Linked DNA regions of Homo sapiens. The protein of the gene in region 1 interacts with the protein of each later gene in a pairwise test. Each region holds a gene or a part of one and is shown on either strand. Other genes may lie near its edges. The genes, in order: CYB5R2 and ZNF778.

Region 1 (11,335 bases):
AGGGAGGATTCCCTCTTTTTCTATTGATTGGAATAGTTTCAGAAGGAATGGTACCAGTTCCTCCTTGTACCTCTGGTAGAATTCGGCTGTGAATCCATCTGGTCCTGGACTCTTTTTGGTTGGTAAGCTATTGATTATTGCCACAATTTCAGATCCTGTTATTGGTGCATTCAGAGATTCAACTTCTTCCTGGTTTAGTGTTGGGAGAGTGTATGTGTCGAGGAATTTATCCATTTCTTCTAGATTTTCTAGTTTATTTGCGTAGAGGTGTTTGTAGTATGCTCTGATGGTAGTTTGTATTTCTGTGGGATCGGTGGTGATATCCCCTGTATCATTTTTTATTGTGTCTATTTGATTCTTCTCTCTTTTTTTCTTTATTAGTTTTGCTAGCAGTCTATCAATTTTGTTAATCCTTTCAAAAAACCAGCTCCTGGATTCATTAATTTTTTGAAGGGTTTTTTGTGTCTCTATTTCCTTCAGTTCTGCTCTGATTTTAGTTATTTCTTGCCTTCTGCTAGCTTTTGAATATGTTTGCTCTTGCTTTTCTAGTTCTTTTAATTGTGATGTCAGGGTGTCAATTTTGGATCTTTCCTGCTTTCTCTTGTGGGCATTTAGTGCTATAAATTTCCCTCTACACACTGCTTTGAATGTGTCCCAGAGATTCTGGTATGTTGTGTCTCTGTTCTCGTTGGTTTCAAAGAACATCTTTATTTCTGCCTTCATTTCGTTATGTTCCAAGTAGTCATTCAGGAGCAGGTTGTTCAGTTTCCATGCAGTCGGGTGGTTTTGAGTGAGATTCTTAATCCTGAGTTCTAGTTTGATTGCACTGTGGTCTGAGAGATAGTTTGTTATAATTTCTGTTCTTTTACATTTGCTGAGGAGAGCTTTACTTCCAACTATGTGGTCAATTTTGGAATAGGTGTGGTGTGGTGCTGAAAAATATGTATATTCTCTTGATTTGGGGTGGAGAGTTCTGTAGATGTCTATTAGGTCCACTTGGTGCAGAGCTGAGTTCAATTCCTGCGTATCCTTTGTTGACTTTGTCTCGTTTATCTGTCTAATGTTGACAGTGGGGTGTTAAAGTCTCCCATTATTAATGCGTGGGAGTCTAAGTCTCTTTGTAGGTCACTCAGGACTTGCTTTATGAATCTGGGTGCTCCTGTATTGGGTGCATATATATTTAGGATAGTTAGCTCCTCTTGTTGAATTGATCCCTTTACCATTATGTAATGGCCTTCTTTGTCTCTTTTGATCTTTGTTGGTTTAAAGTCTGTTTTATCAGAGACTAGGGTTGCAACCCCTGCCTTTTTTTGTTTTCCATTTGCTTGGTAGATCTTCCTCCATCCTTTTATTTTGAGCCTATGTGTGTCTCTGCACGTGAGATGGGTTTCCTGAATACAGCACACTGATGGGTCTTGACTCTTTATCCAGTTTGCCAGTCTGTGTCTTTTAATTGGAGCATTTAGTCCATTTACATTTAAAGTTAATATTGTTATGTGTGAATTTGATCCTGTCATTATGATGTTAGCTGGTTATTTTGCTCGTTAGTTGATGCAGTTTCTTCCTAGTCTTGATGGTCTTTACATTGTGGCATGATTTTGCAGCGACTGGTACCGGTTGTTCCTTTCCATGTTTAGCACTTCCTTCAGGAGCTCTTTTAGGGCAGGCCTAGTGGTGACAAAATCTCTCAGCATTTGCTTGTCTGTAAAGTGTTTTATTTCTCCTTCACTTATGAAGCTTAGTTTGGCTGGATGTGAAATTCTGGGTTGAAAATTCTTTTCTTTAAGAATGTTGAATATTGGCCCCCACTCTCTTCTGGCTTGTAGGGTTTCTGCTGAGAGATCCGCTGTTAGTCTGATGGGCTTCCCTTTGAGGGTAACCCGACCTTTCTCTCTGGCTGCCCTTAACATTTTTTCCTTCGTTTCAACTTTGGTGAATCTGACAATTATGTGTCTTGGAGTTGCTCTTCTCGAGGAGTATCTTTCTGGCGTTCTCTGTATTTCCTGAATCTGAACGTTGGCCTGCCTTGCTAGATTGGGGAAGTTCTCCTGGATAATATCCTGCAGAGTGTTCTCCAACTTGGTTCCATTCTCCCCATCACATTCAGGTCCACCAATCAGACATAGATTTGGTCTTTTCACATAGTCCCATATTTCTTGGAGGCTTTGTTCATTTCTTTTTATTCTTTTTTCTCTAAACTTCCCTTCTCGCTTCATTTCTTTTATTTCATCTTCCATCACTGATACCCTTTCTTCCAGTTGATCGCATCGGCTCCTGAGGCTTCTGCATTCTTCACGTAGTTCTCAAGCCTTGGTTTTCAGCTCCATCAGCTCCTTTAAGCACTTCTCTGTATTGGTTATTCTAGTTATACATTCTTCTAAATTTTTTTCAAAGTTTTCAACTTCTTTGCCTTTGGTTTGAATGTCCTCCCGTAGCTCAGAGTAATTTGATCGTCTGAAGCCTTCTTCTCTCAGCTCGTCAAAGTCATTCTCCATCCAGCTTTGTTCTGTTGTTGGTGAGGAGCTGCATTCCTTTGGAGGAGGAGAGGCGCTCTGCTTTTTAGAGTTTCCAGTTTTTCTGTTCTGTTTTTTCCCCATCTTTGTGGTTTTATCTACTTTTGGTCTTTGATGATGGTGATGTACAGATGGGTTTTTGGTGTGGATGTCCTTTCTGTTTGTTAGTTTTCCTTCTAACAGACAGGACCCTCAGCTGCAGGTCTGTTGGAATACCCTGCTGTGTGAGGTGTCGGTGTGCCCCTGCTGGGGGGTGCCTCCCAGTTAGGCTGCTCAGGGGTCAGTGGTCAGGGACCCACTTGAGGAGGCAGTCTGCCCGTTCTCAGATCTGCAGCTGCGAGCTGGGAGAACCACTGCTCTCTTCAAAGCTGTCAGACAGGGACATTTAAGTCTGTAGAAGTTACTTCTGTCTTTTTGTTTGTCTGTTCCCTGCCCCCAGAGGTGGAGCCTACAGAGGCAGGCAGGCCTCCTTGAGCTGTGGTGGGCTCCACCCAGTTCGAGCTTCCCGGCTGCTTTGTTTACCTAAGCAAGCCTGGGTAATGGCGGGCGCCCCTCCCCCAGCCTCGCTGCTGCCTTGCAGTTTGATCTCAGACTGCTGTGCTAGCAATCAGCGAGACTCCCTGGGCGTATGACCCTCCCAGCCAGGTGCGGGATATAATCTCATGGTGCGCCGTTTTTTAAGCCCGTCGGAAAAGCGCAGTATTCTGGTGGGAGTGACCCGATTTTCCAGGTGCGTCCGTCACCCCTTTCTTTGACTCGGAAAGGGAACTCCCTGACCCCTTGTGCTTCCCAAGTGAGGCAATGCCTTGCCCTGCTTCGGCTCGCACACGGTGCGCGCACCCACTGACCTACACCCACTGTCTGGCACTCCCTAGTGAGATGAACCCGGTACCTCAGATGGAAATGCAGAAATCACCGTCTTCTGCGTCGCTCACGCTGGGAGCTGTAGACCGGAGCTGTTCCTATTCGGCCGTCTTGGCTCCTCCCTTGCATGTTGTCATTCTTAATGGGGGTTTGGGGAAGGAGTCTGAATAGGTTCCATGGAAGAGATGACACTTGAATTTGGAAACATGAATCATATTTTCCCAGGTATGCCGGAGAGGAAGGGCATTCCAGGTAGACAGACTTGAAACAGCCCAGTACAACCTAGGGATTGCCAAAAGTTGGTAGGCTAGAGCAGGGTTTCCTGGCCTCTGTGCTGCTGTCACTTTGGGCTGCGTAATACTCTGTGATGGAAATACTCTGTGATGGAGGCTCTCCTGTGGGTTTTAAGATGTTTAGCAGCATCCTTGGTCTCTACCCTCTAAATGCTAATAGAGGGTAGATGCACCCCTTCTGTAGCTGACAACCAACATGTCTTTGGACTTTGTTATCTGTTCCCTGAGCAGCAAAATCACCCTCAGTTGAGAACCAGTAGGTGAGAGAATGGGGTCGGAGTTGGGGGCCCAGGGAAAGAAAAATCTGATAAAGTCGGCAGGAGCAAACCAAGAAGGGCCTTGGGAGCCAGGCCCTGGAGTGTGTCCTGGAGAGATGGGGGTGGCCAGAGTGGGGTCTCCCTTGAAAGCAGTGAAGGATCCCCAAGGAGACAGTGAACAGGGGGATGGGTGAGGTTGGCTGTCCCTCCCCCCCACCCCGACAGACCCTCGTTTGGGTTTCATGATACAAAGGATTTAAGGCAGTTTCTGGAACCTGACTTTGAAAGTTGAGAAGTTTCTGTGTGTAACCACTCCTACCATGACCCCTAGTGCCATGGAGAGATTCTTGAGAGTTGATGTGACCCCACTTGGAGTTTTTTAGGAACTGCCCCGACACTTGCCAGTTGTGACCCCCATGGGCATGCAGAAGCCAACTCACAGGCCAGGCCACGGCCTCCTGACTGCCTAGCACGTCCCCCACAGAGCCACACTTCATGGGCTGTCTGCTTTGTACTTGAGTTTATTTCACAAAACCACGGAGAAAGATACTGAAATGGAGCTCTTTCCAGCCTCCAAGCAAGGAGGCCCCAGCAGCCAGTCTCCAGCCCCTTGAGCCCTTTTTGTTAGGCCCACACCCAAAAGAGGAGAACCAGTGTGTGCGCGAAGGTACATGGCAAGGCACTTTTGAAAACATCCCAGTTTACCGTGGTGAAATTGAACTTACTCTGAAACAGATGAAAAGGGACATGCAAAATTGCTGAGCACGTGGAGGTGTTAGTAGGTGAAAATCATGTCCTGGGTATAACCCAGCTTCTCCAGGTTAGGGTGAGCCGCCGTCTGGATTAGTGGTGGCGGGCCACACACCAGGATGAGCGTGGACTTCGCTGGAGGAGGAAGGTGCTCCTTGATCATGTCGGCAGTAACGAAGCCTGAGCTGTACTTCCAGCCTGAAATGAAGGAGATGCAGGAGCAAGCTGAGCGATGCCAGGTGGAGTTCCTGATCCCAGGCCGCCTGCACACCCACCCTCAGCCAGGGAGGAGGTGACAAGCTGCTCTACAAAGGCTTAGAAGTCTGTACTACTGCTCCCTGCAAAAAGCCTCAGAACTAGTAAACAGCCCTCTGCAGCAATCACCCCAGGTCCCAGGCTCACTGCAGGGACCCTGAAGCCCTGCTGCTGTCTGTCAGCTGTCAGCATTGACGAGGAAGGAGAACACAACGAGGTATACCGAGGTGTGTGAATCAGTACAGCCAGCTGGAGTTGTCCGGCAGGGTGTGGCCTGGTGTTAGTGGAACTGCGCAGAATTGCTCAGTAGGGTAGCGCCCTCTGCCGACCAGGGACCTGTATGACAAGCAGGTACAGCCGGGAGCAGTGTGAGAGGCGCGCCTGTGGGGTGCTCTGTGCACAGTGGTTGCTGGGATGCTGTCTGGGCTGCAGCAGCTGTCTGGGGGCTCAGCATGTCCAGGTGAGGTGGGCGGTAAGGGGTGTGGTGGCCGTAAGCAGAAGGGTGAGTGGTGAAGGGGTCAGTGCCCATATTAGATGTGTATGTGATGGCTGTGTGGAATGGGTGGGTGTTCACAGTGGACAGGGGCAGTGTCCCTTTTGATGTTCAGTGCAGCGTGAGGTGCTGCTGATGTATTAGACACCTGCTCTCGATTGCCCTTAAAAGCAGGCCATCCCAAATCCTTTCTCCCTCAATTTCTCACATTTCCCATCTGGAGCCAGAGCCCCAGGCTTAACCCCCACATCTGGTCCTACAAAACTAAAACAAAACAAAGAGACAGAGACCAGTCCTCAAAGTGGTCAAGGGTTGGTGCTGACCCATGGTGAGTGAGGGCAATGGATGTCGTACCAATGGGAGGCCTGTCCAGGGTGTACCACAGGTTGAACTGGTCTGGGTGAGTCCTGGCAATTTCTTCAAGCTCTTTTCTGACCAAGATATCCTCCTCTGTCTAGAAAAGAAGCAACACTGAAAAAGCCCCTCCAGGGCCATCCTCTTGTTCCCTGGACTGACTACACCGGTCAGCATACTCCTGGCCAAAGCTGCCACCACTCCAGCTGGAGTGCTCGCTGCCAACTCCCACGGCAAACAAGAGTTCTGCTGCTGCTCCTGAAGCTCAAACCCTTTGTTTTGTGGATGAAGTTCCTCCATGTGGATGAAGAACCTCCATGGGATGTAGGTTCCCATGGAGCTGCAGTGACCGCCTCCAACTAGAAGGACCTTAGCCAAGCGCTGGCCAGGATGGCTTCACTCGGAGCTCCAGCCCTGCCTCCTACATCTACACTGAGCTCTAGCACAGCAAACCTAACTGGAACAAGCTCAGTGCAGGCCCAGGATCTTCTGGAAGAAATGTAATGGGCTCAGAAAGTCCTGTGATAGAACAGCACTGGATATGTGAAGGAGAGGAAAACAGTCTGGAGCCCCATTTGGGGGAAAGGGAACCAAAGCCAAAAATAACCTGTCACAGCCTCAAAGATAACTGCACAGAAGACCTGGATCTTAAAACTCCTCATGATTCTCATCCCAGTCATTCCACTTCTGGGATTCTGTTTTAGAAAATAATCTAAAAGTAATCAAGCGTAGGCACAATTATTCATCACCATATTATTTAGAACTGAAAACAGCCTGAATGTGGAAGTTAGTAAATTATAGTGCAACTTGATAAAAACTATGATGAAAATATTTATAAAGCATCTTAAAGAGAAGAAAATGCCTGTTGTGGTAATGCTGAGTGAAAAAAAAAAAGCATATATAAATTACAAATATATAACATATATAGAAAAAAGATTTAAAAAGTAAGTAAATATTTATATTCTGTATTTTCTGAAGTGTCCACTGAGGACATCTGTGATTTTACACTTAGCAAAAATACAGCAGTACATCTTAAGGAAAAAAGGAATGCTTAGTGCTTAGGGCTGGCTGAGGAGACACAAAAGAGTTAAATACATGCAAAAAGCAGGCCTGGACTCAGCTTCTCCAGCTGCCAGCAGCCCTGTTGATCCCACTAAGCCCTCCCACAGATGCAGGCACCCAAGCAGCATGAGCTCAGTCAATGCAGGAGAAATGAAAACAAGAGCCCAGCTCAGCAAACATTCCATCCTACCACTGCAAGCTCAGCAGGAACTGACCTGGTTGGCAAAGATGAGGGACATCCTGGTCCTGTCACTGGGGTCCTTGGTGATGTGGCGAATGAGCTGCAACATGGGTGTGATGCCTGGAACACAGTGAGCGAGCAGCCAGCTTTCTCCCTGTCTCTGAAGCCCACAGTCCCTGACCTGCAGCAAGCTTCATACCTTCCCCCAGCCCAAGTTATCCTTTTCTCACTTCTGTCCCCAAAACTCAAAGCAGGAAACAGCCCTTCATTTTGGTTTTCCTTTCTAATGCAACAGTAAGTCAGGTAGTCTTTCTCATTTTCATATGGCAAGATGGAAAGAACACTCTAAGTTCTTCAGTGTCCTCATTCATCAAACAATGACGGGTAAATGTGATCGTTTTAAGAATGCCTATTACAGTGCCTGGCACATTGTATGTCTCCTTCAAAGACTGCTCTCTTTCTTCAGGCAGTCATTTTCAAGGGATGGGGAGAGTCAGGCTTGAACTGGATCTAGGAGCCCCTGGGACAGCATGGGTGGGCCTGCCCAGCTTGCCCCCAAGCCTGACCTGAAAGGTCCCCACAAGGCTCCTGAGCAGCCACCATATTGGTTAGGGGAAGCAGGGTACACAGGGTCAGTTTCAAGACCTGTCACTGGTTCATCGTTCCCACCTTCTACAGCTGGAGGCGAAATCTCTCATGTTGTCCCTTAGAGGATCAAATGACTCCCAAGTCAGAATGGGTCTCGGGGCTCACTCTCTGGATGGAGCCCCTAGAAGCCTCTTACCTGTGCCCCCAGCAATCATTCCCAGGTGATCGGCCAGTGTTTTTTTAGGCTCACTCGTCTGGTCTGGTCTGATTCCAAGATTCCCTGGAAACACAGAGAATGCTTATGACCTCTGCAGTTCTTGCCTAAAGAGACTGCAAAAGATCACTGACATTCCTTAGGACTCCCAGGAGGCACGTCCAGCTAAGGGACTGTCTGCACCATTTTAAGCTGGAGAAGCAGGCCAGGGCAGTCTCCTCAGCTAGCCCTGGTGCTCCAGTGCACAAAGTGGGAATAGAGCCTGGGCTTGGTCGGGGAATCGCCGGGCCTTCTGTTCTGAGGAAAAAGAGGGGCAAGCTGAAGTTAACACAGAGACTCAAAGAGCATTCTCACTCACGGAGGTGAACCAGTGAGTAAACAATGGCTATGTGAGTAACCAAGGAGCATGGACTCCCTCCATCCATTTTTCAGTATTAGCAGGCACCATTTATGTATCAGGCATTGTGCTGGAGATTTTGATACAATGACGAGGAAACACCAAGTCATTCCCCTACCTTACAAAAGCTGACAACCTCATGAAGTGGGTGTGTGAATGTGTAACAAGTGTGATCATTATGCATTGTGTGTGAATGAATGAAGACTAAGGACAACCCCATGTGACTCAAATCTGAGGAGTGTACGAGAACAATGGAACCATTGCAGGAATCTTCCTCCCAGCTGGGAGCCCAAGTATTAACCCCTCCAGTACCTGGCCCATGGTAAAACAAGCGTCCCCTTGGCCCTCGAAAAAAGATGGTCTCCCCGATTTTCATGTTCTCCAAATACTGAGTCATCTTCCCACCTTCAGGATATTGGGGGTGTACATTTTTGAAGTAGATCTGAAAAGCAAGGCAGCACTGCTTTCACATTCCCAGACACAATGCCACAGCCACGTACAACTAGAAAATGCATTTACTGCTGGAAGCTTTGCAGAGAAAGTGTTCTCCTCTCTGAATTGTTGTACGCAATCCCTGAAGATGAAGCTGCCACAAGGTTAACTGTAGCTTCACTGCTGGAAAGCCCTGCCTAGGGCATATGTGCCCTCAGAGAAAAAGCACTGCCCCTCCACCCCACCACCCTCAGTAGGCTTGGAAGCACGAGCTAGCCAGATATGGTGGGCACTATTTACCTTTATAATTAGGTCCACAAAGCCTCTGTCATCATCACTGGAGACAGGGGTGTAAGCCCTGACCACCAATTCATTATCGATTTTTGCCAAGAGCTGGACATAGTTACCTATAGAAAAGGCATCAAGCACTGAGTCAAAGCATATTTAGCTTAAATAAGGCCCAGGAATAAAGGACTGAGCTTCAGTGAAGGGAGCAAATACTGGGGGCACAATGTTAAGAGGGGTGGGAAGAAGAGAGCAGGGAAGGAACCCAAATATGGGATGCCCGGATCCTAGGCCTGCCCTGCCTCCCTGTGCTACCCTAGGCAAGTCACTTCACCTCTCTGGGTTTTGGTCTCTTCATCTGTAAAATGGGGGTGATATGTCTGCCCACCTGTGATCTTAGTGTAACTGCTTTTTGGAGCAGGAAAAGATCATTAAAGTTGGAGAGTGAGTATTAAAAATTACAGAAAGGGGTCAGACATGGTAGCTCACGCCTGTAATCCCAGCCCAGAGGCGGGTGGATTGCTTGAGCTCAGGAGTTCGAGACCAGCCTGGGCAAGATGGCGAAACCCCATCTCTACAAAAAAATACAAAAAATTAGCCAGGTGTGGTGGTGCACACCCACAGTCTCAGCTACTTGGGAGGCTGAGGTGGGAGCATCACCTGAGCCCAGGAGGTCGAGGCTGCAGTGAGCTGAGACTGTGCCACTGCATTCCAGCCTGGACGACAGAATGAGACCCTGTCTCAAAAAAAAAAAAAAAATTAGAAAGGAATATTTGTCTATTCAAGAAAAATATGTGGCCTTCACAAACTCCTTTCTTCCTAAACTGGATGTATCACTGAGATCTGTGAATAAATTACAACTACTCCATCTGTATCCTGGTACTAGGCACAGAGCAGGCCTGGGCTCACAGATACTACAGGGCCCTAGGATTTGGGTACCCATGGAGCAAATGAAACAACAATATCATGTCTTCCTGGCCTATGGCCTTGTGAGGAGTAGCAGTGAAGTTTTTAACCATGTAACTCTGCCCTTCCTGGGTAGAATTCAATAAACCAGGTGTGGCCAGAGACCTATGGATCATGACTACATCCCACTGTCAGATGACACACTGGGCAGCTACGACCTGTTGGATCCAAAATGTGAGACTCAAATTACTAAGGCAATTAGTGGCAGGGACAGGAGTGCAATCAAGAGATACTAAGAGCTAGAGGCAAGAGAAAGTTTTGTAACCCTAACCCTTGACTAACTTCCTGTATGTATGTAGTCAGTTTACTCCCTCAGTTTCTACTCGCTCAGAAACTGAGTGGACTACATACGGGAAATTAGTCGAGACAAGGAAGATGGAACAGAGAGATGGATAGAAACCAAGACCTAAGGTGCAGGGAGGAGGAGGAGGCAGGAGGAGAAAAAAGCAGGCAGAGTAGGCACTAGAGGGGCTGGTCCCTGAAGCTGATTCAAGGGGATGAGCCAAGTCTTTGAGGTGCCAACACTCTGGGCTCAGAACAGGCTCAATGACTCTGGTCATGGTCCCTCTGGGCACCAGGGATAGCCAGGAGTAAGTGAGACACCTAGCTTCCTTCTGAGAACCTGAAACTGGAAACCTGGAAAGGCTCTTTCATATGCAGCCACCTAGGCCTGGCCTGAGGGTGTCCCCAGGGCAAATGGGGCTCCCTGGCTGGTCCTTCAAGCCCCATCTCTAACTTGCTTCACTTCCACTGGGCTGGGACGAAGCAGCGAACTCTGAGGCCTCATATTAGACTCTCCCAGAGGCCTCTACATTACCTTGTCCCACTAACTTTGCACGGCCTAGGCCAAGGCTGAGGAGATAGTGGGTCAAGGCAGTTTCTAAGCAATTCTCTATCTCAAAGTTTTTCATTCTTTTAGGCTTCCTGCCAACAGGACCTGCCTGACAGGCCGAGCAGGGAGCTGAGAGACGGCACGCACAACACTGAGCTCTCGTGCATAGAGATGGAGTGAGGGAACAGCAAGGAGGCTCAGGGGCCCAGCGAGCTGGCTAGAGTGTAATCTCACCACCTGATAGAGCTGAGGTCAAGGTTTTGGCCTGTGCATATAAGACAAATAGGCCACGGAGTAGGATCCACCAGGCAGGCAAGCAGCACTAGCAGATTATACAAAGCTGCTCTGAATCCCTGATTCTAGCAGTTTTCTACTGCACTAAGACTGACTCAGCTATCTAGTGGTGTTACAGATTAGAAATGGGATAACTCAACTCTAGGACTCCTAGGGCTGGAATCTGCAACTCGTAGGGCTGGTCCCTCCTTATGTGGGTCTGAGGCCCCTGCAGAGAATCTAAGTGACCTTGGGGGCAGGGCACACCTGACTCATTCCTGCCTACCCGCACATTCTGGGCCTTTCCCCGACCACTGGTTCCTCCC
Region 2 (12,438 bases), on another chromosome or scaffold:
AACCATTTATTTAAACCAGGTCTGCAGGCAATTCTTTGTATTGCCTCATCGTTACTTCTGTTTCATTCCTAAAGGATATTTTGTTGGATATAGCAATCTGGGTTGGCATTTCTTTTTATTTCAGAACTTGAAAAATGCTCCTACATTTCCTGTTGGCCTCTATGGCTTCCGACGAGAAACCCGGTCAATTGAATTGTTCTTCTGGAAGCACTGTGTCCACTTTCTCAGCCTCCTTCCAAGACTTTCACTCTGTAGCTTTCGGCAGCTTCGTGGTGGCAGGGGCTTGGTTTTCTTTTCTTTCTTCTTTTTTGAGACAGAGTCTCGCTCTGTTGCCCAGGCTGGAGTGCAGTGGTGCAATCTCAGCTCACTGCATGCTCTGCCTCCCGGGTTCACGCCATTCTCCTGCCTCAGCCTCCCCAGTAGCTGGGACTGCAGTCGCCCGCCACCACGCCCAACTAAATTTTTGTATTTTTCTTTTTTTTTTTTTTTTTTACTAGAGACGAGGTTTCACTGTGTTGGCCAGGATGGTCATGATCTCCTGACCTTGTGATCCGCCCACCTCGGCCTCCCAAAGTGCTGGGATTACAGGTGTGAGCCACCGCCCCCGGCCTGGGCTTGGTTTTCTTTAGGTTTATCCTGTCTGGGGCTCATGGAACCTCTTCAAACTTAAGTTTTTATCTTACACCAAATATGAGAAATGTTTCATCATTATTTTTTCAAGTGGTTTTACTACATCACACTTTCTCCTTTTCTTCCAGGATACTGAGGTCATGAATGTTAGCCATTTGGTATCATAACACTGCTCCCCAAGGCTGTTGCACATATGCTGAATAATTTAAGATTATAGTCTACACTTCTGAATTTTAGGTTATGACACTCTGGGTCTGTCAGTCCCACGGGTGATGGAGATACTGGTTCATCAGGCGAGTAACCTAGTCAGGTTCAGGAGGCAAGTTCTATTGAAACCATGTGGGTCGTGCTTTCCATGTTGATTCTGTCTTAAAGCCTACGCAGAACTGCTCATGTCTCTTCTCGGGCGAGGCTCGTCCACCTACAGAGTGGTCAACCTCACAGGCCAGCTCCTAAGGCTGATGATGTGTTTGCTGCTGCAGGACTGCCTGGAGGCCAGGGCAAGCGAATGGGAAAAACTAAACTTTCGGATTTTTTCTCTCACAGTGTTAGGACACCTGTTTCCCACTCGTTGTGTGAAAACGGAAGTCAGCATGAGGCCCCGATCTGGAGCCTAGTGGGTGCTGGTGCCAAGCTTCTGGGACCCTCCAGGCCTTCAGAATTGTGAACAAAATAAACCTCTTTTCTTCATTAAAAAAAAGAGGCCTTGCAAAAATTTTTATGTCCATAGTGGGAAAAATGACATTACACTCTACAGATACGGTCAACAAAAATCAACTCCAAATGGATTAAGCAACTTGGGATAAAACATAGAAACTGTGGAAGCCAAAATAGTACAGCATATTTAAGGCCTTAGGAGAAAAGAAATTTCTGATGAAGATAAAGGAAAGGTTGTATAAATTTGAGTATGCCAAAATTAAGAAATATTTTTCCTTTTTTTTTGAGACAGAGTCTCACTCTGTTGCCAGGCTGGAGTGCAGTGGCGCGATCTCGGTTCACTGCAATCTGTGCTTCCCATCTTCAAGCAATTCTCCTGCCTCAGCCTCCCAAGGAGCTGGGATTACAGGCGTGCACCACCACATCTAGCCAATTTTTCTATTTTTAGTAGAGATGGCGTTTCACCATGTTGGCCAGGATGGTCTTGATCTCCTGACCTTGTGATCCACCCACCTCGGCCTCCCAAAGTGTTGGGATTACAGGCCTGAGCCACCACACCTGGCACAATCTTTTTCCTTAAGGCATCATCACAAAAGTGGAAACAGGTGAAGTGGAAACCACTGCAATCTTCTAAGTCACAAGTGGTGACTCACCTCACAACAGCCTCACTATTTCTAAAAAAGAACAAAGATCAAACAAACCAGGAAAAAACAAGACCAGGTACTTCATCCAAAAAGGAAAATAGCCAGCGTAAGCAAAACCATGTTCATACTATCAGTAATGAAGAGAAGTGCAAACCAACACCCCAAGGAGATGCTGTTTCACAACCACTTTGGAAAAAACGTCACTCCCTAAGAAGGTTGAACGAGTAGAGAGAAAGAATAAAACTGCCCAGGAGTCAACATGGCAGTTCCTACAGATAGTTCAAGAATCCCTGGGCTGGGTAAGACCTTGTCACAGACATGTGCTTAGGTAGAGAGACTATGAGGAAAACCACACCACTGGTGGGGCCTAGACGCGGACTCGTCAAGGTGAGTGAGTGACACACACAGGTTCCTGACATGGAAAGTTTATCACTCACAGTGTCAAGAGAAGGCGGCACATCACTCCAGGCAGGGCCCAAGGGGAGCTGCAGAGCTGGGCAGGAGGCAGAAGTCAGAGCCAGGGGAGGCAGAGGCCACAGGGTTTTCACAGGAAAGGCAGGACAGGGCAGGATGAAGTCTGGGGCTGGCTAGTCTGCATACTTCCAGCAGGCCCAAGGGCATACAGCATGTCCTGCTGTCTAGTGCCTCATCCTGGGCTGACTTCAGGGAGGAGAAATACTGGCTTGGTGTGGTAGTTAGAAAAAGGAAGTGGCCGGAAATAAGTACTTGCAACAGTTGAGTTGCATACGCAGTGCGAGCTGAGTTGCATACGCAGTGCGAGTTGAGTTGCATACGCAGTGCGAGTTGAGTTGCATATGCAGTGCGAGTTGAGTTGCATACGCAGTGAGTTGAGTTGCATATGCAGTAAGTTGATTTGCATACGCAGTGCGAGTTGAATTGCATATGCAGAGCGAGCTGAGTTGCATACAGTGTGAGTTGAGTTGCATATGCAGTATGAGTTGAGTTGCGTTGCATATGCAGTGCGAGCTGAGTTGCATATGCAGTGAGTTGATTTGCATACGCAGTGCGAGTTGAGTTGCATACACAGAGCAAGCTGAGTTGCATACGCAGTGTGAGTTGAGTTGCACACGCAGTGCGAGTTGAGTTGCACACGCAGTGCGAGTTGAGTTGCATACGCAGTGCGAGTTGAGTTGCATACGCAGTGCGAGTTGAGTTGCATACGCAGTGCGAGTTGCATACGCAGTGCGAGCTGAGTTGCATACGCAGAGCGAGCTGAGTTGCATACGCAGAGCGAGCTGAGTTGCATACGCAGTGCGAGCTGAGTTGCATACGCAGAGCGAGCTGAGTTGCATACGCAGAGCGAGCTGAGTTGCATACGCAGAGCGAGCTGAGTTGCATACGCAGTGCGAGCTGAGTTGCATACGCAGTGCGAGCTGAGTTGCATACGCAGAGCGAGCTGAGTTGCATACGCAGAGCGAGCTGACTTGCATACGCAGTGCGAGCTGAGTTGCATACGCAGTGCGAGCTGAGTTGCATACGCAGAGCGAGCTGAGTTGCATACGCAGTGCGACTTGAGTTGCATACGCAGAGCGAGCTGGGTTGCATACGCAGAGCGAGCTCAGTTGCATACGCAGAGCGAGCTGAGTTGCATAGGCAGTGAGTGGATTCGCATACGCAGTGCGAGTTGAGTTGCATACGCAGTGCGAGTTGAGTTGCATACGCAGTGCGAGTTGATTTGCATACACGGTGTGAGTTGAGTTGCATATACGGTGTGAGTTGAGTTGCATATGCAGTGAGTTGATGTGCATATGCAGTGAGTTGATTTGTATATGCAGTGCATGTTTCCAGCAAGTTGTTTACCATCTTTAGGAATGATCTAGCCTGAGAGGGACGGTCTAGCCCCCACAGCAAGACCCCAGGATGAAAATGTACCCTAACAAAAAAAAAAAAAACATAATTAATACAATTGGTCCTTTAATATTTTATCTTACTCTGAGGAACCCTCAGACATTGGGAGTGGAGATTTTCACACAGGAGGGCATAAGTTGCCCTAAGTGACACAGAACACGTTCTGAGAGTTAGGAAGAGAAATACAGGTATCTGCCTAACCAGTACTTGCAGTCCTGCCCATAACCCAGTTTTCCATCATGCTTGGTGTCTTAGTCTGTCTGTGTTGCTACATATCTGAGGCTGTGGGTAACTTAGAAAGAGGCTTATTTGGCTCATGGTTCAGCAGGCTGTGCAAGCATAGCACTGGCATCTGACCTGCTTCTGGTGAGGACTATTTGCTGTGTCAAACAGGGCAGAGAAGGTCAAGGGCAGTGAGCCAAACCCGAGGGACGGCTTGGCTTTATCACAACCATGCTCCCAGTAACTAGTGCATTCCCCTACAAACCAATCCAGGCTTGACACAGCAAGAATGAATGGTATCCAACCATTCAGGAGGGTGCCCCCATGACCCAAACCCCCACCAGGCCCCCTCCCAGCACTGCCACACTGAGGGTCAAAGCTCAACATGAGACTTGATGAGGGCAAACCAATCACATCCACATCACAGCATATGGTATTACTCAAGAAAATCACTTTGAAATGTTGGGGGTCCAATGATAATATCCTTGAGGAGTTATAAAGGTGATAAAGGGATGAGTTTGACAATTATCAGGATGGCAGGTCTGTAGTTCTGCTGCAGGAGGGTATGAAGCAAACAGTTAGTATGTGTAAAGAAGAGGCTCTGTGTGAAGCCAAGTCAAGGGAGTAAGGAGATGAGATGGAAAGCTGCAGCGGAGGAGAAGGCACTGGGGAGACAGTGGCCTTCCCAGAGGCTGATAGGAGGCGGGCACCTCCTGGTGAAACAAAACATTTTGGTATCAATTATTGAGACTTCACAGACACTACTAACTCCTACCAGATTTTCCTACAGGCAAGGGGTGCAGGGCTGTGGGTTTTGGTTGAGATTACACCAGGATCACGGGTTAGCGGACAGCAAGCTCAGCTCATCACAGAATCTCAAATATCAAATTTGTGCCTTAGGAACCCCAGTCCATGGGCATCGCTGCTGAGGAGGTTCTGAAGAAGTGCGTGAAGTCACCTCCAGTGAAGGGAGGGGGAGTCGTCGGAGGGGTAGTCGTCTTAATTGAGGTCTGTGCTGGGGTGATGTCTCCACCAACAGTGGGCATATCAGGCAGGGTGGTGTCTGGGCTACCGCCTGCTCAGGATGCTGTCACTAGGAGTCCGAGCACCAGGATGATGCAGTCCTGGCGTCACCTGTGACCCACAAGTTCTGGACTCAGGCAACTGTGAGTCAGTTCTAGCAGAGACCTGCAGGACTTATTTCAGCCAATCAGGATGTCACCTGAGACCAGTCCAGGAGCCGCTACAACCCCACAAGCTGGTTCCCGCTAATCTGATGACCTTTAGTGTCAATGCCAACAATTAAAGGTGGCAACAGATGAGCTAAATAGCCACACTCAATCCCACAAGAGAAACATGGCACAACCCACTCCTCTCCACAACAAACACGTAACATGAAGGTGCATGGCTCTGTCCATCCAGAATTTCAAACACGTGACATGAAGGTGCACAGGTCTGTCCATCCAGGATTTCAAACATGTGACAGGAAGGTGCACGGGTCTGTCCATCCAGAATTTTAAACACGTAACATGAAGGTGCATGGGTCTGTCCATCCAGAATTTCAAACACGTGACATGAAGGTGGACGGGTCTGTCCATCCAGGATTTCAAACACGTAATATGAAGGTGCACGGGTCTGTCCATCCAGGATTTATTGTTCACCTCGTTGTAGATTACCTTTATACCGTGGGGATTCAACACCACAGAAACAGTCACCAAGCAGCTGCTGCCCTGATGGCCACAAAAAACATAACCCAGGATTGCTGCAGCCAGAGGACACACATTCGTGTCACTCACATGAAGTCTTGCTCTGCCACTGTGTGTGTTTAAGGGCCTCATCCAAGAAGCGCCAGTGACAGGGCCAAGCGCCACAGAACATCAGGACCAGCCGTGTCCCTGGTCTGTTTTCATGGTACACAAAGGAGCAGCACACACACAAGCAGCAGCTGCCCCAGGAGTGCCGGGTCGCAGCAGCTGCCCCATGAATGCCGGATCACAGCAGCTGCCTCATCAGTGCCGGATCGCAGCAGCTGCCCCAGGAGTGCCAGATTGCAGCAGCTGCCAGGACCGCTCTGCATGCTGTGAAGAGGATCTGGAGGTCAACAAGGACACTCAGGGCTCTCACCCGTCCGGCACTGCCTAAGGTACAGGAATTCCCTCCTCCCCACGTGGGGGGTGGTGGTTCTCCCTCCACGGCCATGAAACGGGGGCATCTCAGGGTACAGACCTCGCCCCTCTCCACTCTGCCCCTCCTTGCACCCTGGTGTTTTATCTGAAGGGATCAGGTATGGGAGAGGAACAAGGGCATTTTCATAAAATGTAGAGCTGTGTTATGCCCCAACATTGGCCAGTGTGGGACCCTACAGGTGGGTCATGCCTAAGAGCATGACTAACCAACCAGAGCCTACGCTGCTCATACAGGATCCCATCTGGATACTTAAGACTAACCAACCAGAGCCTACACTGCTCACACAGGATCACATCTGGATCCTCAAGACTAACCAACCAGAGCCTACACTGCTCACAGAATCACATCTGGATCCTCAACACTAACCAACCAGAGCCTACGCTGCTCACACAGGATCACATCTGGATCCTCAAGACTAACCAACCAGAGCCTACGCTGCTCACACAGGATCACATCTGGATACCTAAGACTAACCAACCAGAGCCTACACTGCTCACAGAATCACATCTGGATCCTCAAGACTAACCAACCAGAGCCTACGCTGCTCACACAGGATCACATCTGGATCCTCAAGACTAACCAACCAGAGCCTACGCTGCTCACGCAGGATCACATCTGGATCCTCAAGACTAACCAAGCAGAGCCTACGCTGCTCACAGAATCACATCTGGATCCTCAAGACTAACCAACCAGAGCCTACGCTGCTCACAGAATCACATCTGGATCCTCAAGACTAACCAACCAGAGCCTATGCTGCTCACAGAATCACATCTGGATCCTCAAGACTAACCAACCAGAGCCTACGCTGCTCACACAGAATCACATCTGCATCCTCAAGACTAACCAACCAGAGCCTACACTGCTCACAGAATCACATCTGGATCCTCAAGACTAACCAACCAGAGCCTACAGTGCTCACACAAGATCACATCTGGATCCTGAAGACTAACCAACCAGAGCTTACACTGCTCACAGAATCACATCTGGATCCTCAAGACTAACCAACCAGAGCCTACGCTGCTCAAAGAATCACATCTGGATCCTCAAGACTAACCAACCAGAGCCTACACTGCTCACACAGGATCACATCTGAGTCCTCAAGGCCTACTGTTAGCCAGGCTGCGACGTGGACACTGTAGCAACCAGACTGGAGGATTTCTACAGGGAACAGAGTCCTCACTCCAAGAATGATCAGTGCAGCATCATAAAGATTCAAAATACGTCTACAGAACCCCCAGAAAGACATGTCTCAAGTTAGCCCACAAGGTTTTAGAACACAGGGAAGCGACTGCTATCTTCCATACATTCACAACACTTCAAGTGTCAATCACCACGTTTACTAAAGGGTGAGGAAAGATGTAATGTAAAAAATGACTTCCCAACAATTCTCACCCTCCTAAGGTTTTTCTTCATTGTGAGATCACAAGGGATCATCAAAGTACTGAGCAGAACAGCAACAATGCTGCTGCATATCACACATCAATAGAGTTCTCTCTACTGGATACCATCCATATTCAGCAAGACCTTAGAGAACACTGAGGGCTTTCTCTGTGTCTGCTGCATAGGGCTCCAGGGTGAGTTCCTGCCTGCCGGGTTGTGATGAGATGCTGATTGCCTAGCCACATTCCTCAAGTCATGGACATCTGGAGAACGAGAGGTCTTTCATGTCTTCAACGTGAATGAGTGTAGCTGACAGCTTCCCCACATTCTTTACATTAGAAAGGTTTCTCATCAGTGTGAATTTGAGTGTGATGGTTAAGGCATGAGGAATTCTTAAAAGATTTTCCACAGTCCTTACATACAAAAACCTGCTCTTCAGTGTAAGTTTTTAAATGTTCTTTTAGTAGATAAAACCTATTGTATGCTTTCCCACATTCCTTACATTTATAGGGTTTCTGCCCAGTGTGAATTCTTCCATGTTTATGCAGGTGAGAGGAGGCACGGAAGGCTTTCCCACACTCGTTACATATGTAAGGTTTCTCTCCTGTGTGAGTCCTTCTGTGTTCGATAAGGTGTGAGGAGGAAGCAAAGGCTTTCCCACACTCCTTACATATGTAGGGTTTCTCACCGGTGTGGGTTCTTATGTGCACGATAAGGTGTGAGGATGTGGTGAAGGCCTTTCCGCATACTTTACATTCATAAGGTTTCTCTCCAGTGTGAGTTCGTATGTGCTCGGTTAGGCTCGAAGAAACAGTGAATGTTTTCCCACAGTCCTTACATTCATAAGGTTTTATTCCAGTGTGAATCTGAATGTGCTTATTCAGGCACGAGGAATTTCTGAAGGATTTCCTGCATACCGTACATATAAAGGGCTTCTCCTCTGTGTGAGTTTTCACATGCTCATTCAGTAGATAAACCCTATTGTAGGCTTTCCCACAGTCCTTACATTCATAGGGCTTCTCCCCGGTGTGTGTCCGCATGTGTTTAGTGAGGCCTGAGCGCCCTGTGAAGGCTTTGCCACACTGCTTACATTCGTAGGGTTTCTCTCCGGTATGGATTCTCGCGTGCTCAGTCAGGCTTGAAGAAACAGTGAAGGATTTCCCACAATCTTTACATTCATATGGTTTCTCTCCAGTGTGAGTCCTTACATGCTCAGTAAGGCCCGAGGATGTACAGAAGGCTTTCCCGCAGTCCTTACACGTGTATGGCTTCTCGCCCGTGTGTGTTCGTACGTGTCTAGTAAGGCCACAGCGCACAGTGAAGGCCTTCCCACAGTAGCTGCATGTATAGGGTTTTATTCCAGTGTGAATTCGAACATGATTATTAAGGCATGAGGAATTTCTAAAATATTTTCCGCAAACCACACATGCAAAGGGCTTCTCCCTCGTGTGAGTTTTTCCATGCTCATTCAGTAGATAAAACCCACCGCAGGCTTTCCCACAGTCCTTACATTCATAGGGCTTCTGTCCAGGGTCTGTTTGGACGTGTTTAGAAAGACCTGAGAGTCCAGTGAAGGCTTTTCCGCATTCTTTACATTCACAGGGTTTCTCTGCAGCATGAATTCTTACATGTTGAGTTAGGCTGGAAGAAACAGGGGAGGCTTTTCCACATTCTTCCAATTCACAGGGCTTTTCCCCAGGGTGGACTTGCACGCGACCAGTAAGGTAGGCAGTGTACCTAAAGGCCTTCCCACATTCCCTACATACGTGGGGATTCCTGACGGCATGCATTTCAACAGGTGTGGCGCAGCCCATGGAGTGAGTTAGAGCTTTCCCACACGGCTTCCATTTCCATGTTTCTTCTCCGTTGTGACTTCCCGCACGTGCCTGAAGGTATGACTGATTAAGGAACACTTCCCCACAGCTGCTGTAGTCAAGAGATCTGTCCCGAGTGCATGCTTGCTGGGAAACAACATTTGGAGTAGAGCTGAAGGCTTTTCCACACTGACCCAACACGGAAAACTGCTCTCCAATTTTGAACAAGGTTTTCTGGCATGGAATAAAAAAGTCCCTTTCATAATGATTAGACACACAACTGTCTCCTGTATTTTGAGTTCTCACGTGTGTGCTGAGGCCTGAGTGTTCACTGAAAGCTTCTCCACACTGCGTGCGGTCACAGAGCTGCCCTCCATTGTGGCTTCTTGCCTGTTGGTGAAGAATGAGTGGTGGTCAGGGGGTTACTGAGGCTGATTCATAGATCTCACCCAGCTGAAGACAGAGCATGACGATGATGATTACGATTTTTGCCATTTTCATAACATGCAAGCAGCTCCTGCCCTGTAGATGTCTTTCAAGTCAAATGAGGAGCCCCACTGCAAGAATCCTGTGCCATCAGGACGGGCGCAGCAGCTCATGCCTGTAATCCCAGAACTTTGGGAGGCCGAGGCGGGCAGATCACCTGAGGTCGGGAGTTCAAGACCAGCCTGACCAACATGGAGAAACCCCGTCTCTATTAAAAATACAAAATTAACTGGGCATGGTGGCGCATGCCTGTAATCCCAGCTACTCAGGAGGCTGAGGCAGAAGAATGGCTTGAACCAGGGAGGCAGAGGTTGCGGCGAGCTAAGATTGCGCCGTTGCATTCCAGCCTGGGCAACAAGAGCAAAACTCCATGTCAAAAAAAAGAATCGGCCAGGCACAGTGGCTCACGCCTGTAATCCCAGTACTTTGGGAGGCTGAGGTGGGAGGATCACAAAGTCAAGAGATCGAGACCATCCTGGCCAACATGGTGAAACCCCGTCTCTACTAAAAATACACAAATTAGCTGGGCATGGTGGCACATGCCTCTAGTTCCAGCTACTTGGGAGGCTGAGGCAGGACAATCACTTGAATCCAGGAGGCGGAGGTTGCAGTGAGCCAAGATCGTGCCACTGCGCTCCAGCCTGGTGATGGAGTGAGACTTCATCTCAAAAAAAAAAAAAAGAATCCTGCACCATCTGCTCTAACTTCGAAAAGTCTGTGCGCACAAAACAGCTCTGCGATCTCAAGACCTCGTCATGTGTGCGCTGATGTGTGTCTGAAGCACCAAGTTTCAAGACAGGATGAGGTCCTCCCAAATTCCGCACATTCAGAGTGTTCTCTACAGACAACCCCTGCCTGAGTGAATCCTGCTTCTCTAAATTCTCTCAATTTTGCTCATTTTCTATAGTGGAATTCCCAATCTTTTATGAGTGTGATAAATAAAAAAATCTCTCTTGTTAATCTTACCGTCTGTGTCTCATTTGATGCTCTGAACCAAGATCTATCCTGCCGAAGTGCTGGCCCTTTGGTTTTAAGTCGCCATTCTGAAAAGAAAGAAGAATGACCTAAAAACGATCAAACTCATTGGTATTTGTTTTCATATAAGACATGGCAGAAAAAAAAACAAAGCAAAGATAGATTTAAGGAGTTTGGCTATGTGTAAAATTTGGAATCATAGGAACTGGGAGTCATAATTTAGAAGATTTTAAAATACATTTGGTCCATAAAGAAGAAATGTGAGGTGAACAGAAACAATATTATCAATGAAAGAAAGCAGGAAAGAGCTGGACAAAGGGCATACATTCAAAACACAAACTTGGCCAGGCGTGGCAGCACGCACCTGTAATCCCAGCTACTCAGGAGGCTGAGGCAGAAGAACTGAGTGAACCCAGGAGGCAGAGTTTGCAGTGAGCCAAGATTGTGCCACTGCACTCCAGCCTGGGCAACAGAGCAAGACTCCGTCTCAAAAAAAAAAAAAAAAAAAAAACCCACAAACTGAAAGAACAAAACAGCAGGTTTTTTATGAGATCACAAGAAAGGGAAAATCCAGATCAGATGGAAAATAAGGAATTACGGGAAGCTCAGGATACCCAGAGCCAACAGCCTCATGTTCTGTGCCAGAATGCATCTTAAAACGTGCACTCAGGATTCTTCCACAGCCGCTAAACTCGACACTCAGGATCCTCCCACAGCCGCTTAACTTGACACAATCCTTCCATAGCCGCTAAACTTGACACTCAGGATCCTCCCACAGCTGCTAAACTTGACATCGACCAGGCGTGCTCTTCACACTTACCTTGGAGAACTGCTCTCCGCCCTGCCCTCAACTCCTCTTCCTGCTCCAGCCAATAGATCACACTGGGTTGGAACAGGTGATGTCCTGTACACAGGGAAAGAGACATCGATGGAAGAGGCTCAGGCAGGGGATGACAAACCTACCCGTGAACAGGAACTACATTTCCTTTTTTTTATTATTTTTTGAGACAGCGTCTCGCGCTGTTGCCCAGGCTGGAGTGCAGTGGTGCAATCTCGGCTCACTGCAACGTCTGCCTCCTGGGTTCAAGTGATTCTCTTGCCTCAGCCTCCTAAGTAGCTGGGACTATAGGTGCCCGCCACCACGCCTGGCTAGTTTTTTGTATTTTTAGTAGAGATGGGGTTTCACCGTGTTGGTCAGAATGGTCTCAATCTCCTGACCTTGTGATCCGCCCACCCCGGCCTCTCAAAAGTGCTAGGATTACAGGCATGAGCCACTGCGTCTGGCGTCCCAGAGTGCTCGGATTACAGGCGTGAGCCACTGCGCCCAGCCTCCCAAAGTGCTGGGATTACAGGCATGAGCCACTGCGTCCAGCATCCCAGAGTGCTGGGATTACAGGCGTGGCCACCACACCCTGCCTCCCAGAGTGCTGGGATTACAGCCCTGAGCCACTGCGCCTGGCCTCCTAGAGTGCTGGGATTACAGCCCTGAGCCACTGCACCCAGCCTCCCAGAGTGCTCGGATTACAGCCCTGAGCCACTGCACCCAGCCTCCCAGAGTGCTCGGATTACAGCCC

The links.
Region 2: the proteins of CYB5R2 (region 1) and ZNF778 interact in binary tests that used the Homo sapiens proteins (3 or more experiments, as listed by UniProt).

Annotation. Positions count from the first base shown.
Region 1 is NC_000011.10:7,660,672-7,672,006, forward strand, and holds the end of CYB5R2 (NADH-cytochrome b5 reductase 2), read right to left. Parts: intron 9,061-11,335; coding exon 8,954-9,060; intron 8,664-8,953; coding exon 8,534-8,663; intron 7,891-8,533; coding exon 7,807-7,890; intron 7,143-7,806; coding exon 7,057-7,142; intron 6,634-7,056; exon of another isoform or gene 5,941-6,633; coding exon of another isoform or gene 5,884-5,940; intron 5,880-5,883; coding exon 5,780-5,879; coding exon of another isoform or gene 5,716-5,779; intron 5,269-5,715; coding exon of another isoform or gene 5,169-5,268; exon of another isoform or gene 5,156-5,168; intron 4,876-5,155; coding exon 4,703-4,875; 3' UTR 4,433-4,702; downstream 1-4,432. UniProt on the Homo sapiens protein: NADH-cytochrome b5 reductases are involved in desaturation and elongation of fatty acids, cholesterol biosynthesis, drug metabolism, and, in erythrocyte, methemoglobin reduction.
Region 2 is NC_000016.10:89,224,049-89,236,486, reverse strand, and holds part of ZNF778 (zinc finger protein 778), read right to left. Parts: intron 11,769-12,438; coding exon 11,685-11,768; intron 10,933-11,684; coding exon 10,856-10,932; intron 9,794-10,855; coding exon 7,925-9,793; 3' UTR 1-7,924. UniProt on the Homo sapiens protein: May be involved in transcriptional regulation.